4 linked regions of the Homo sapiens genome follow. The protein of the gene in region 2 interacts with the protein of the main gene of each other region in a pairwise test. Each region holds a gene or a part of one and is shown on either strand. Other genes may lie near its edges.

Evidence for each region.
Region 1: the proteins of EMP1 (region 2) and SPACA1 interact in binary tests that used the Homo sapiens proteins (3 or more experiments, as listed by UniProt).
Region 3: the proteins of EMP1 (region 2) and STOM interact in binary tests that used the Homo sapiens proteins (3 or more experiments, as listed by UniProt).
Region 4: the proteins of EMP1 (region 2) and LRRC3B interact in binary tests that used the Homo sapiens proteins (3 or more experiments, as listed by UniProt).

What each region holds. Positions count from the first base shown.
Region 1 is NC_000006.12:88,061,341-88,064,840, reverse strand, and holds part of SPACA1 (sperm acrosome membrane-associated protein 1 precursor), read right to left. Parts: intron 762-3,500; coding exon of another isoform or gene 743-761; coding exon 622-742; intron 1-621. UniProt on the Homo sapiens protein: Plays a role in acrosome formation and establishment of normal sperm morphology during spermatogenesis. Important for male fertility.
Region 2 is NC_000012.12:13,206,726-13,210,225, reverse strand, and holds part of EMP1 (epithelial membrane protein 1), read right to left. Parts: intron 1-3,500.
Region 3 is NC_000009.12:121,363,751-121,367,250, forward strand, and holds part of STOM (stomatin), read right to left. Parts: intron 2,496-3,500; exon of another isoform or gene 2,366-2,495; intron 1-2,365. UniProt on the Homo sapiens protein: Regulates ion channel activity and transmembrane ion transport. Regulates ASIC2 and ASIC3 channel activity.
Region 4 is NC_000003.12:26,621,364-26,625,571, reverse strand, and holds the start of LRRC3B (leucine-rich repeat-containing protein 3B precursor), read right to left. Parts: upstream 2,801-4,208; 5' UTR 2,335-2,800; intron 1,974-2,334; exon of another isoform or gene 1,520-1,973; intron 1,492-1,519; exon of another isoform or gene 1,214-1,491; intron 927-1,213; exon of another isoform or gene 61-926; intron 1-60.

The sequences.
Region 1 (3,500 bases), on a different chromosome or scaffold from region 2:
ACACACATATGACCTATATATGATATATGTATATTGTATATACATTATATGTACATAGAAGATATATGTATATTGTATATACAATATATGTACATATATATGTACATATATATAAAACATATATATTACCTCTTCTCTAAGAAGTGCCTTTGTATTCATTATTCATTTTTAGTTTGCGATGCATCAGCTACAAATCGATAGTATATGAGCCCTCAGACTTACCAGGGTGTACTACTCATGTAGGTATTATAAATATTGTCATACAAATGAATTAGTAGGTTACAATAACCAAGTTTTAGAGTTGAGAGAACCACAACTGGACAACACAAATATTCATTAAATAAAACTTTTTAAAGCAATTACCGTGTAAAATTGTAAAAGTTGCATTTAAAAGCTCTCTCATAGTTGGAGAAGCAAGTCATGAGATTGTTTTAAAAAGCATCTACATAAAGAGACGGGGCAGCCTGAACTAGGGCAGTCACAGGAGTAATGAAAGGCGATGGACAGTTTCAAGGCAACATGTAGGAGACATCACGGACAGGGCTTTGCAATTCACTGGATGAGGAGGGGGAAGAAGAGGATGTCAATCAAGGGTGATGATGCATTCCACTATTCACCTACCAATTTATGATTATGAAGATCAATAAGAAAATTATAAATACACAGATAATGACTCCTATGGTCAGCACAAAAATTAGGGCTGCATCAGTGGCTGGTAGGCTTGATCTTCTCATCTGCAATTCTAGAGAAAACACACAAACCTAAGGAGTATTACTACTGAGGAAAAGGAAATGAATATCTAACTTAAAAGTTTATATTTGAAAAACAACTCTAGAAACATAAAGAAATGCTTAGTGCAGAGAAAATTATTAATGATCTTGCTCTGCATGTTTGAAATGTCCTTTTCAAACATGAAAAAAGTTAAAAGAATTTGACAACGAACAGCCTGTATTACCACCATCTAAATACTACCATTAATATTTTAAAATTCATCTATCCATTCCTCTATCAATTCATTAATCCATCTTATTTTTATGCATTTCAATATAATTTGCAAATGTCAGTACACTTCCTCAAAAATTTTTCAGCAAGCATATCGTTAACTGGAGTTTAATATTAGTTTTTTCTTTGAAATAAAATTTTCACACAAAGAATTGCACAAAGATCTTAAATGTACATTTGCTTAGTTTTGACAAAGGCAAACTCATATATGTAACTAAATGTTAGTCAAGATATAGAATATTACTATACCCCAGAAAGTTCCCTTGAGCCTCTTCCTAATTAACTCCTTCCTCATCCTCCAGAGGCAACAAGCATCCTGATTTTCTTTTCCACCATAGATTAGCTCTGACTATTCTAGAACTACATATAAATTGAAACACACACTAGGTAATCTCTTGTGTAAAGATTTGTTTACTTAGAATAATGTTTTAGAAATTCACCCATACTGTTATATGCAACTATCATTTTTTTATTATTACTAGGTATACTCCACAATTTGTTTACTCATCCTCCTACTGATGGATATCTAGGCTGTTCCAGTTGTGAGATACTATAAATAAAGCTGCCATGAACATTCTTATACAAGTCATTTTGTGAATATATATCTTAATTTTTGGCTAAATGTCTAATAATAGAATTGCTGGGTCGTAGGGTAGACAGATGTGTGTTTAGCTGTCTAAGAAACCATGAGAACTTTCTCAAACTGATTGTACTGACTGTACAGGTTTTATAAATGTTTTCTACCAGATTTTGGCTTGCCTATTCATTATCCTAATGATTTTTGTTAATGAGCTGAAGTTTTTAATTTTGATGCAGTCTGATTTATTCAATGTTTCCTTTTATGGTGATTGTTTTCTGAATTATGTCTAAGAAACGTTTGCCTACTCCTGAATCATGCAAATAGTCTCCTATATTTCTTTCCTAAAACTTTATGGGTTTAGCTTTTACACTTAAGACTATGATACCTCTCTAATTTTTATATTTGCTGTAAGAAAGGAATTGAAGCTCATTGTTTTCTATACACATATCCACATACCCCGACCCCTCTCTCTTTAGGAAATGGGGTCTTGCTATATTGCCCAGGCTGGCCTTGAACTCCTGGGCTCAAGTGATCTTCCCACCTCAGCCTCCCTAGTAGCTAGTATTATAGGCACACACCACTGTACCCACCTCATGCACCACTCTTACCTCAAGCATTCTCTCCCATGTCTCTCTGCTCTTTCAGCAAATAAGGTTATCAAAGAGACAAAGCCAATCTACCGTATGTATTACAGTATTGCTACATTGTAAACTAGTAAAAAGCCAATTAACATAGAATATTACTTACTTTGTGAATTACATAGCTTTATTGTATCTCTTTTATGACCCCAAATTCTGGAATCATAAAAGATTCATGGAAGAAAGAACTACAGAGATCATCTGATCCAACTATTGCATTATACAGATAAGTAAACCAAGGCCCAGGGAGGTTTAATTTGTACAAGGTATATTTTGACTATTTAAATACTTTGATTTTGATAAGTACTACTCTGTCAGAACTAGTCTTCTATATGAGCAATCTCAACTGCTTATTTTTCTGGATTTGTTTCCCTATCTGTTAGACATCATGGAGTATAAGTTTCCATTTTGCCTAGTAATTCTAGAGCTATAAACTCAAGTTAGGGATCTCGCTAAATAGTTCCAAGTATGCTAGAGAAAATACATCTATATTTACGTTCCAACATTGTTGGATTTTTAAAAATCTTTTTATTTCAAAATAACTTTAGATTTACACAAGTGGTGGCATTTTGGAAACTTAAATAAAAAACACCTTTCAGAACTGACACCTGACAAGGAGAAATGCAAATTTCATTTATCCATTACTCTGCAATGTTAGCTGAGAGAGGGTGGAGAGTGAGGGGCATGAAGATTTTATTTATTACAACAGTAGTCTTGCAAGGGTCACCTAGACTATTTTTACAGGTAATGAAAAAAATAGGCTCAATTTCCTATTGAAGTATTTAATGAAAAATAGGCTAAATTTGATGCTCTCACCTTTTAGATAAACTAAGCTTATGTACTTATTAGTTTCCTAGGACCACCATAACAAAGTACCACAAACTGGGTGACGAAAACAACAGAAATGTATTGTCTCGCAGTTTTGGAGGCTAGAAGTCTGAAAACAATGTGTTGGCCGAGCCATGCTCTCACTGAAGGTTCTTGGGGAGGATCCTTCCTTGTCTCTTACAGCTTCTCAGCTTCTGGTAGGCTCAGAAATTCCTTGGATTCTGGTAGCATAACTCCAATTTTTGTCTCCATTTTCACATGGCTGTCTTCTCCCTATGTCTGTTTCTCTGTGTCTTCACCTGGCATTCCGCGCCCCACTTTCCATCTGTGTTTGTGTGTGTGTGTGTGTGTGTGTGTGTGCGCACAAGCATGCCCAAATATTCCTCTTCTTATGAGGGCACCAGTTATATTGGATTAAAGGCCCACTCTGCTCTAGTACAACCTCATCTTAA
Region 2 (3,500 bases):
CCTAATTTAATTGATGCTTTGAATGTGCTTGAGGCACTTTCATGCCACATCAGGTATTTATTAGAGAGCACTGATACTATAATTCCAACACTTCACATGCCTTTTATCTCCTCTCACTGTCTTTATCAGGCAACCAAAAATCTAGAGTGATCTAATATACATCAGGGTGCCTTGCTCTCTGCAAGCAAGGAATGAGAGGCAGACAATGGCTTCCACCATTCTCCCTGACCGTCTCCAACAGCCCCTTCCCAATCTGGCCACTTCCTTCCAACCCAGGCTGTTTTTTAGGAATGTGTCCAACTTAACTGTGAATGCAAAAATTATGACGTTTATCCTGCCTCTTCAGGGGAGAGGTTGGAGCTTTCATGTCTGCTATTAGTAATCCCCCCACACATTCAAATTCATTTTTGCTTTTCTCAGGTTCTAGCACACCTCCCCAATTTTCTGCTTGACTTAAATGCACAGTAAAAAGAGATTTTTGAATCAGACAGAGGATGAATTAGAATCATATCCAGTTATTTGACCGCTCATCTGTTTCCTCATTTAGAAAGTGGAAGTCGCAATGTCAATTGCAAAGGGAAATGTGAGGATGAATTCAGATTGTTTATGTAAAACACCTAGTGTCTGACACATGGCAGCTACTAATAATGGGGTTGCTTTAGCTGCGGTTATTATTATTACTATTATTCATAAGTGAAGCCGGGTAGCTGTTGCCAACCCAACCCAGTTACTCAATCGCTAGGCTGCCCCATGTTAAGTGCAAGTAATAAGATATCTGCTGTCTAGTTCACGAGGCAGGGTGTATACAATCCTTTCGGTCCTCTTAGAAATTGTCATTTGTCTAACCCTTGCCCCTTAAGGGGGGAGACCTCTAAGAGCACACCCTCAGGAAAGACCAGGAGAAAGTTCACTTTCTCAGCCCAACTTCCTCATACCTCCCAAGATTCACACCTCACCAGATCCTGATCTCCTTGCCCCCTATGGGGAAAGGAACAGGCTGATTGCAGGGAATTACAAATATTACATAACGAATACTTATGTTTAATCCTCCTCGGGCTCTTCAAATGACTTTCTTGTTCCTGTTGCTTCTAATTTACAAACATCCTCTTCTTAAAAGGGGGAAGGGCTGGAGGGGCCAATGACAGAATATAATCCACCAAGTGAGGCCACTTAAATGAGTCACAGAAAACATTCCCTCCCTGATAGGCTGTTGGGAATTCAGCAGCATTTTGTCTCCTTGGGTTGCTCTGTAACCCCTAAAGTCAAGTCTGATTTCCTCTGCCCAGCTCACACTCTCTGTCTCAATGACCCCTCCCACGGCACCTCTACCTGGGCCCATGCATCACAGCCCTGGTGGTGTGTGCGAGTGCCTGGCCCCTGGATCCACCTGACCATATGCCCTGCCCATTGCAGGCTGGAAGAATGGATGTGAGAATCAAGCAAAAGAGCGACTCTCTTTCATCTTAGATTTTTGTGATGGTGCCCTCCCTGTCTTTTCACCACGGAAAGAAGCAAAATGTCTTGAGTTAGCAAGCGGTCTTGTGCAAAACACACAGTTCTCTCTGTTTTTAGCTGCTGTATCCAGCCAGAAGGAGGGGCTGTTTAGCTTAAGCTACAACTTCTCCATCTTTTCACTGGCCCATTATTTGTCAGGTTTTACTAATATCATTCACTGTCAGTTTAGAGGGGCTTCCATTATTTTCAATGGCCTTCCCCCCAACACAGGTGAAAACAGAATGAGTTATCTTCTTGAGTTTCTGGGCTGAATCATCCCTAGTTACCCAGTCTTTACACTGTGCTAGATACCTCCTGCCCCCAGGGAAACCCTCAGTCTGGGAGGAGGCGATCACTGAGGTCTTTATGAAAAAGCCATTAGTGGTAACTAATGGGTAAATGTCTGGGCATTTATCAAATAGCAGAGTATAATAAACAGAAGAACCCCTGCTCCTGAAACTTCCACCCACCCATTACTTGCAAGGTAGCTTGTGGGGAGATTCATTCTCTGCCCCATTGTGAATCTTGCTTCATACAAAGGCACTGAAAAAAATACCATTTATGAGAATTTATACCATTGGAAGTATTGGTGGCTACTACTTATTTCTTAGCAGTGTGTTTCACTAAAACAATAGTAGACTTCTCCCTCAGCCCTCTCTAAAATGATATGGGTGGCACTCTCCAGTGGAAAGCATACCCCTAGTCCTAGTGAGGCAGCGCAAACCAAGATGCAGAGAATCACAGCATTGCAATTCTGAATACTTTGAAGCAAGACCCGCTTTTTGCAGAGCATTTGGTGCACTGAGCAGTTCCAAAGTTGTAGGGGAACGCTCATAACAGCGTTCATTTGTGGTGCTTAGACTCCCAGACCTAGGCCAGCAGAGCTTATCAATTCATTGCATTTTTAAAGAACAGGCCGTCCACTGACTTCTATGTGGATGCCAGGAACACATTTCTGTACCCACCACTGTGAGTGGAGGATGATCTCCTTCTTAAGCCTCATCTACCTAACATACATGGCACAGGGGCAGTTAGGGGCTGGGTGGGAAACTGAGGAAGGTATAGGACCCATGTATGTTGACTCTGGAGAGAAGTATTATTAAGAGAAATGGAGATCAGCACCTCGGAGCCACACACAGGTCTCTGATATCCCTTTTCTGTTCTTCTTTCTGCCCTAACGGACAGGCTTGCAGTTCCCTACCTCTGACCACCATCTTTTGTTTCTGATCACTGTTCCTCCTTTTCTTTCTGCATTGCCCAGACCACACTAGAGCAGAGGTGTCTTTGTGCTCCTAGCTCTAATGCAAACCTCACAAACACTGACCATTCAGTATTCAGATAAAGTTCTTAGCTAACAGAATAGCTAATATAGTCAGTAGAAATAACCCTGAGGGAGTTCGAGATCATCCTGGCTAACGTGGTGAAACCTAGTATCAATTAAAAATACAAGAAATTAGCCGGGCGTGGTGGTGCACACCTGTAGTCCCAGCTACTGGGGAGGCTGAGGCAGGAGAATCACTTGAACCAGGGAGGCGGAGGTTGCAAAAAGCCAAGATCGCTCCATTGCACTCCAGCCTGGGCAACAGAGCAAGACTCCGTCTCAAAATAAAATAAAATAGAACCCTGAGGATTAAAATTGCTCGTGACTATAGCTCTAAAGGACTAACTAATATGAGACATGAGGGAAGGGAAAGAGGGATAACCAAACCTCTCAAGTTATCTCCATCCATTTAAATCTTTATTGGCTTCTTGCCTCCCTCTTACACACCACACACACACACACACACACACACACACACACACAAATGAAAGAATCAAAGGAACACAGCCCTGAGACTGCCATGCATTGCCTTGTTGCCTTTGTTCAGGCAGCCTAACACTTTTAGGGTTCTCTGACCAGTGAGAAATTACTCAGGCCCCCATGGGAGCCTTTCCTTTTCTGGTGGGTAACTAAATCTGCAGAGACTTTGAGAAGAATTGACTTCTAAGGACCAGAAGGGAAGTTT
Region 3 (3,500 bases), on a different chromosome or scaffold from region 2:
TATGTCAGCCAACTATTTATTTGAGGAGGAAGACTTGCATAAATTAAATAATGCATTTGATCTTTCTTCCAGCTATTCAAATAAGGGTACATTTCCCAGCTTCTCAGTTTCTCCCTTTTGCTTATTTTGAAGCAAGGCCTTTATAAGGCCTGATAAACAAAAACTCCTGGTGAAAATAAGCAAAAGGGCAGGTAGAGTAAGTGAATATAAATTCCTCTTCAATTAATCAAATTTTTACTATAACTAAGTTTTTCAAATGACTGGAATTTTAGGAGAAAAAGACAAAGAAGGGAAGGACATAGCAGAAGCGAAGGAAAATAAGAGAAATAGAAGGAGTAAAAATGGGAGAAACAAAAATGAAGACAGAATCCTACAAAGAGAGATAGATTAAAAAAGCTAGAAGTGAGAAAGAGGCAGAGTTTACCACATGGTAGCGTCTCGATAAACGTATGTTAAAAAATGATAGTGTTTCATTAGAGATCAAAACTTGCAATTCATTTAAGGCAGAAGATTTCAAAGCAAACAAGCACACACACATTATAGCCTGCCTTTCAAATTAGTATTTTAATTAGGCACGGCTTAGTTGTTCGAATGCCCTTATCCTTAAATCTCTAGAGAAGAAATTATTCTTGGGGCTAGAGTAGCTACAGGCCAGATGGTATCAAGTTAAAAACCATGAGTGAAGACTGTAACTTTTCCTCCCTATTAAAATCCATCTATAGTTATAAATGCTAGACCAAAAGAACTGATACTGATGAAGCACTATGTGGTTTGAATTACAAAGCTTAAAATGTGTTTACTGTGAAATACTAAGGAAAACAAATGGACTAATACTTCTAAGAAAGATTTGCAATAACAGTTATTCTTTGCTTAGCTCAAAAAGAATAAGGAAAGTAAATAAGCATAAATGTCTTATTTCCTAAATATTTTAAGGATTTTCTGTAGTTTTCCTGCATTCAAATGTTTCAGGCCATACAAGAGGAAAAAAATAGGTGAGAGCAACAGCAATAATTTTAAATTTGGACCTCTCAGTCTAAAATAATGCTGCAATAGCCCTTTACCCTTTTAAAACAACATTTATCACACTTGTAATTATTCTATTCAGTTGTGTGTCTTCATGAGATTTTGGTTTTATGAAAACAGTATAGCATAATAGGTTCACAGATGGCTCTGCCACTTACTAGCTGTGTGATCTTGAGAAAGTACCTTATTATTCAACTGTGCCTCAGTCTACCCATTGAAACATAGGGCTAATAAGAGTACCTCCTCAGGTTAGTGTGATGAGTAAATAAGCTAATATGGAAGACACTTAGTGTATATAACAGGTACTCAAAAAACATTTGTTAAATAGTTGCTGGATGAGTTGAGTGTGTTGTTTTTTTGGGGAAAAGAAAAAAAAAAGACTGCCTCTCACATAAGACAAACTGAAACAGCAGACAGGATCCTGGGATACAGTACAGAACCATCTCCTGCCCAAGCAGTTGTCAACTGCTTTCCTCAAGTATTTTCTTTTTAAAAAAAAAATCAGACCTTTTCCAACCATGACGTTAGAGAATTCAGGAAAGCAGAAGAATGGGCTGAACATGGCCCATGTCTGGAAGCACCAAAACATTTATGTTCAGGAAAATTGGAGAGAAAAACAATTTCATAATGGGTATTAAGTTAATTAAATTTCATCTAGGCCTGAAATACATGAAAACAGAACAAAAACCCTCCCACTTTTTAGGTTTTTTTTTTTTTTCCCAGCTCTTTTACTTGGACATCTTAAAATTATTCACAATTAAGTTTTTCTCATATAAGTCTTTGGAGGGTAACATCGTTTTCATTTAAAAATGGGAAATGGAAGCAGAAGAAAACTAGATGATAAAGTTCTCAGTTCTTCACTGTGATTAACAGCTAAGCAGTGGCTAAAAGCTTGCATTTTTGGTGTTAGATTCCAAATCTACCACTAAATTTTCTTATCAGTAAAATGGGGAAAAGAACAGTATTTATTTCACTCAGTTGTTGTGGAGATAAAACGAGAAAATATGTAAAGGGCTTGACACTTAGGAAGTATTCAACAAGCAGTAGCCATTATTATTACCACAACTTTAAGATCACTATTGATAAGTTTAGAGGAAGAAACTTTTTATGAAGTGAATTACCTTTTGGGATCTGGGCACTATGGAGAAAATATCAACTAACAATCTGCTTGGGGACTCTATCTCTGGAGGAGAAACAGACTACACTTGGGGCAGTAAGTCAGAGTTCTAAATGTTCTTGGACCATCCTTCATACAAATCTCTTAAGTGATGGTAGGGTGATCTCAACCTAAATCTTTTAATTATAAATTCCACTCTCATTTCACTATATTCTACTACCTTACCATAGTGCTCACTTTAACTGGACCACAAGTTCAGTATAGTTTTCATTGTCTGAGACTTTAGGACTTTATTGGTTGTATCTTCAAGGATAATCTTCTGAAATGTGAGGCCAAATGCTTGGAGTTCAAGTTTCTTTAGTAGTCCCAGCAGACAGAGAAAGATTAAAAAAGAATGTAGCAACAAGTGTGTGTCAATAGAAAATTATTTTAATTGAAATGATCTATTTTAATTATCAACAAGTGTGTGTCAATAGAAAATTATCTATTGACACACACTTCCTTCTTTCTACTAACCATGACCTCTAAACTTCTCTTTCCATGCTTTAATAAATAAAAGGAGATTTCTTATTAAGGACAATATATTATCTTGGCAATTATAATCCTTTTATTGATAATATAAACCCAGACAAATAGTCTATCTGTAATAATATATAATAAACATAATGGCCATGCCCTAAAATCAACAGCTTAAGTTATAACAAACTTAATAAAATAAATGGTAAACAGAAAAACTGCTCCACCAACATAAGGCTAAGGCAAACACTTAACAATGTTATTTACTCCAGGGGGATTTTTATCTCCCTGCCTGCTTCCTTTTTCTTTGAACAAATGTTTTTGTATACCTACTATGTACTTGATACTGGGCTACTACAGTGAAGAAGGACACAATCTCTATTTTCAAAAGTGTGGTCTAAAGGCCAGGCTTGGTAGCTCATGCCTGTTGTCCCAGCACTCTGGGAGGGTAAAGTGGGATCGCTTGAGTCCAGGAGTTCGAGACCAGCCTGGGCAACATAGTGAGACCCTGAGTTAAAAAAAAAAAAAAAATTAGCTGGGTGTGGTGGTGCATACCTGTAGTCCCAGCTACTCGAGGGGCTGAGGTGGGAGGATCACTTGAGGCTACAGTGAGCTATGACTGCACCATTGCACTCCAGCCTGGGCAACAGAGCAAGACCCGGTCTCAAAAAGAAAAAGTGTAGTTTAATTATGGGAGGGGAGGGGACAGATGAGTCAAACTGATAAATATGTTATGTAATAAACATTATGATAGAGATATGCACAGGATACCAGGCAGACGCAGGGAAAGGGTATTCACTTTTTTTGTAGTTACAATAGTTTTCAGGAAATTGCTTTTCCATGC
Region 4 (4,208 bases), on a different chromosome or scaffold from region 2:
AGCCTTGGGGGGGTCAGAGCTAAATCTCGTGGAGTGCGAGTTTCAAGTCTAGGATCCTACCTCAGGTATCCAGGTACTTCTGAAGAAGCCCGGCTCTCTCACCAGGCCTGGTCTGTGAGGGTGTGGCCTTTGTGCTCAGGAGCTGCACCAGGAGCCTGCGCACAGGGAATCCCCGTTCTGCTCCTTGGGGCTCTGGAGTTTGCCACCGCTAGGCAGGGAGCTAGCTGCTCCAGGGGTGCCCCAGAATGGGAGGGACTGACCTCGGGATTTCTCCCGGGAGCCCTGGCGAGTCGACGTTTCCTCCGATGTGGCCAAGGCGAGGGACCCAGAAAAAGGAACTGCTCTGAATTTTGCTTTTTCCCAACTGGTACAAGGCAGCAGGAGTCCTCTGTAGGGCACCCGCGGAGAAAGTAAGAAAAGCCTGCACGTGGAAGGTCTGAACAGGGAGGACCTAAAGGTTGTACAGGGTTCCAAACCCACCCAACCTCCAAATGTTTCCCTATAGGGCTACTAGGAACCAGGGATCCACTCTCAGCCAAAGGCACCTCTGGGAGAGGAGCATGCACCTCCTCAGGGAGAGAAGGGTTAAGTGAGGTGCTTACTGGCCTTGGCAGTCACTGTGCCCCCACCAGGAAATAGGGGGCTTGATGGATAAAAGGGAGGGGAGGCTGCCTCTTCGAAACAGCCGACTAAGCCCCCTCCCGCAAACGGTCTTGCACTCCAGATTGCTGGGGTGCAAAGGAGAAAAGAGCCTCCCCCTCCTGCATTCGCCAGAGCATCTGGAGCCACAAGAAGAATCTACCTGGGAGCTGCAAGGTGGGCAGATCCACCTCTGTCTGGGCTCCCAGGTCTAAGAGCTGGGTCTCCCCTCACCCGAGGCCCACACCTCCTAGCTCTGCGTTTCCCTGCACGCCCTCCAGCTCTGCGCTCCCCAGCCTCCCGGGCGCAGCACAGGGCTCCCCCCACTCCCTCGCTCCGCCCAGGTGCGATTTGTGGAGGGGCGGGGGAAAGTGGCTCCCACCGCAGCCTCCGCTCCTGCGCTCTCCTCCAACCACTTTGGACCCCTGTTTACTCGCCGCGCGCTGGGGACTCCCCTCTACCCCGCACACACGTCTCCCCCTGGGAGGCAGGAGTCCCCTTCCTACACTGCGGCTGTGGAAACATCCTTGACTCCTGAGTGCCTGGCAGGGAAGGTGGGCGTGGGTCTACCGACCTGGCTGCAGAGGTGAAGGAGCGTAGAAGCAAGCGGGTGCCAGAGAAGAGAGCAGACTATGGTCCTCTTAGAGCTTGGAGAAGCATCCCTAGTCCACGATCTGACCATTCAGTCACCACCCAAGATGCCAACGCATTCAGATTCTCGCGGGGAGGTTTGTTTGCTTCTGGGGAGGAAGATCGCCCCATCCCAGGCACTCAGCAGCCTGCCTTCCCAAGTACCCAAGGGCCCGGCATTCCGGGGCTCCATTCCTTGTCTCCACGCGCCCCCAGGTACCCAGCCCCTCCCCCATCTGTATTTACATACCCAGGCCAGCGCCCTCCGGACTCAAATCCCTTTTCCTCTTCGTCAGATGGCCTCTCAGGGCTGGCCGCTCGCCCACATTAGCAGTACCTTTTCATTTCCCTCAACCGTGGGCAGATCTACCCGACCCTCAGCTTCCTCCTCCACCGCACGAGCAGCCTTTCCCTCCCTGAGCCACTTACTTCACCCACCCATATCTGCACTTGCAGTTCCCACGGCGCACAGCCGCAAGCCACTCCAAAGGTTTCATTGCCGAGTTGGGGGTGGCGTGTGCAAGGATGGACTGACTCCCATCGCGCTGGACGAAGCTTCAGGGGTGGCCGCAGCCATCCTCCATGTCCCACCTCTCTTATTTCACCTTCTCTGTCCCTACCCAGCTCCTAGAGGCAGGACGAGCACTGCTGGGTCCCAAACCCTCGCCTCAGGAGCCAGAGCTGCGGGGAGTGAAAAGTCGACTGGCAAGAACACACAGAGAGAAATGGGCAGATGCATATGGCAAGAGGGGCTGGGGGAAGGGCAAGAACTAAACCTGCAAGTTGCACAGCACGGGGTGAGCACCGCGCAGGGAAGGGGTCACAAAAGTTTGCAGACTATTGTATAGCAGCCGGCTGAACAGGAGCGAAGAGGGTCGACTCTCTCTCTCCAGGAGGAGGTCTCTCCCAGGGTCTGCGCAAAAGGGATCAGGGAGGCTTAGACAGGCACGGCTTAGAACTGGTGTAATAGTTCTCCTCTACTTGTTCCTTGGAGGGACGGCCTAGGTACCCGGGCAGAGGGATGATCCCGCGCTCTGCGAAAAGCAACAGGCGGCTGCACCTTACCTTGCGCCAGTCCCGGGCCGGGGTGGCTGCTCCATCCTCGTGGCTCAGGGAGGAGGCGTTGGGTGCGTATGCTTAGGGGTGTGCCCGCTGCCAGGGCTGCAGCGGCCGCCACCTCCAACCAGCTGCAAGCCGAGCTGCCCACCTGGGACCGGGCCGGCCCGGCGGGCTTGGCTCCCGGCGAAGGCGGCGGCGTTGGTGCGCGGCGGCTGGGGCGCGGGACGCAGGCAGTGCGTGGCGCGGCTGGCGTCTTCGGGCGCCGCCACCGAGCGAGGGTGCGGCCCCGGGCGGCCGTGCGGGGCACGACTTGGCTCGCGTTGCTGCGGCGGCCGCTGCAGACCCTGCTCCAGGCGCCGTAGCCTTGCAGGAAGAGCAGACAAAGACAGGAGAGAGGCAAAGCGCCGCTTGCCCAGAGATGCAGTCGGCTCAGTCAATAGAGGGAAATCGCCTCCAAACCCAGGCTGGGAATGAGGGAGGAGGGGCGAGGCGGCTGGGGACTAGAAAAAGCAGCAGGGAATTAACGTGACAGTCAGAGCCCAGCCAGTGCCTCGCCGGCGCTGCTCTCTCGCCTCGCGGTTGCGGGGTCCGGAATGGAGAGAGGAGGCGGGGGCTGAGCGTTGGCTGCCGGAGACCAGCTGAGGTAGGAGTATTAACTCCCTCTGCTGCTCTCGCCTGCCTTCCTCGCACCCCCTTACACAGCTCTACTTGCAGCAGGCTATGGCCCCATTCTTTCTCCTATTTTTCTAACTACTGAGATCAGAGCTGAATTAAGCTGGTGAAAGGAGCAAAACGTGCAAGGGATTGATTGCCCTCCTTGGGGGAAAAGCGGAGGCTTAAAATCAATTCGACAAATGAGTGTTTACTGGGTGCTGAGTACTGTGCTCCGCTATTGTGAGGGAGGGTTATGAATAAGGTACCCCCCTCCCGCCCCAGGGTCCGTTGTCTGATCTCAGAATCAGTTTCCCCTGCAGTTCTGGAAGCCCAAAGTTTCGGGGTTGAGTTGTGGTCCCTGATCCCGATCCTCAACCAATCTAGCTTTCTAAATCAGAAGAAGGTGGAATTCAATTTTCCTTTCTCCTTCCTGGGATGACTTTAACCTGCAGCCGAAATGGAGTCTATAGGCCCCTTAAAAAAGCGCGCGCACGCCAGTGTGTGTGTGTGCGAGCGCGCTCGCGTGCGCGCGTGTGTTTTAAGAGTAAGTCAAATTAATGGTTTTAGTGATGTTCTTATTTCATGATTTTAATTATTTACCATATCTGCAGTAGACACCAGTTTGGGGCAGAGGAACCCGCCTCTCCAGACTCTACAAATACCACCTTTTTTTCTAAAGCTTTTTTCCGCTACCCCAGTCCTCTGACTCGAGGCAGAAATCTTTCCCCTCTCTTTGCCCTCTCAGAATTTTATTTGCCAATCACTTGCGGAACTTATATATTTATAGATTTATCTCTTCACTCACATATGAGTATTCCCTGTGCTTTTTGTTTGTTTGTTCTCACTGCAACATCCAGCAGTGTTTTGTATCTAATGGGTACTCAAGGAAAGCTTATCCAGTTGAAGGTCATTTTCTCCTTCTGTATGAGCTAAATCTCAGTGTCTCTAGAATTAAAGAGACTCCAGGGATGGAACTTTTGATTTAGGGTGTGGTGGAGGGAACCACACATACAGTTAGACTCACAGCCCCTTTACTGGAAAGGTAATAAAGTATTTAATTCATTTTGGTCTCTAGACAATCAACCTTCTCCCACTGACCACCCACCTCTGTTTCCTGAATTCCCAAAAGCAAAAGAAAACCAAACTGCTAAGCAACTGCCTAGAGCAAGACATGTATGTTCAGCTGCCAACACCTAGAGCAAACCCATTCCAAGTGGAGAATGACC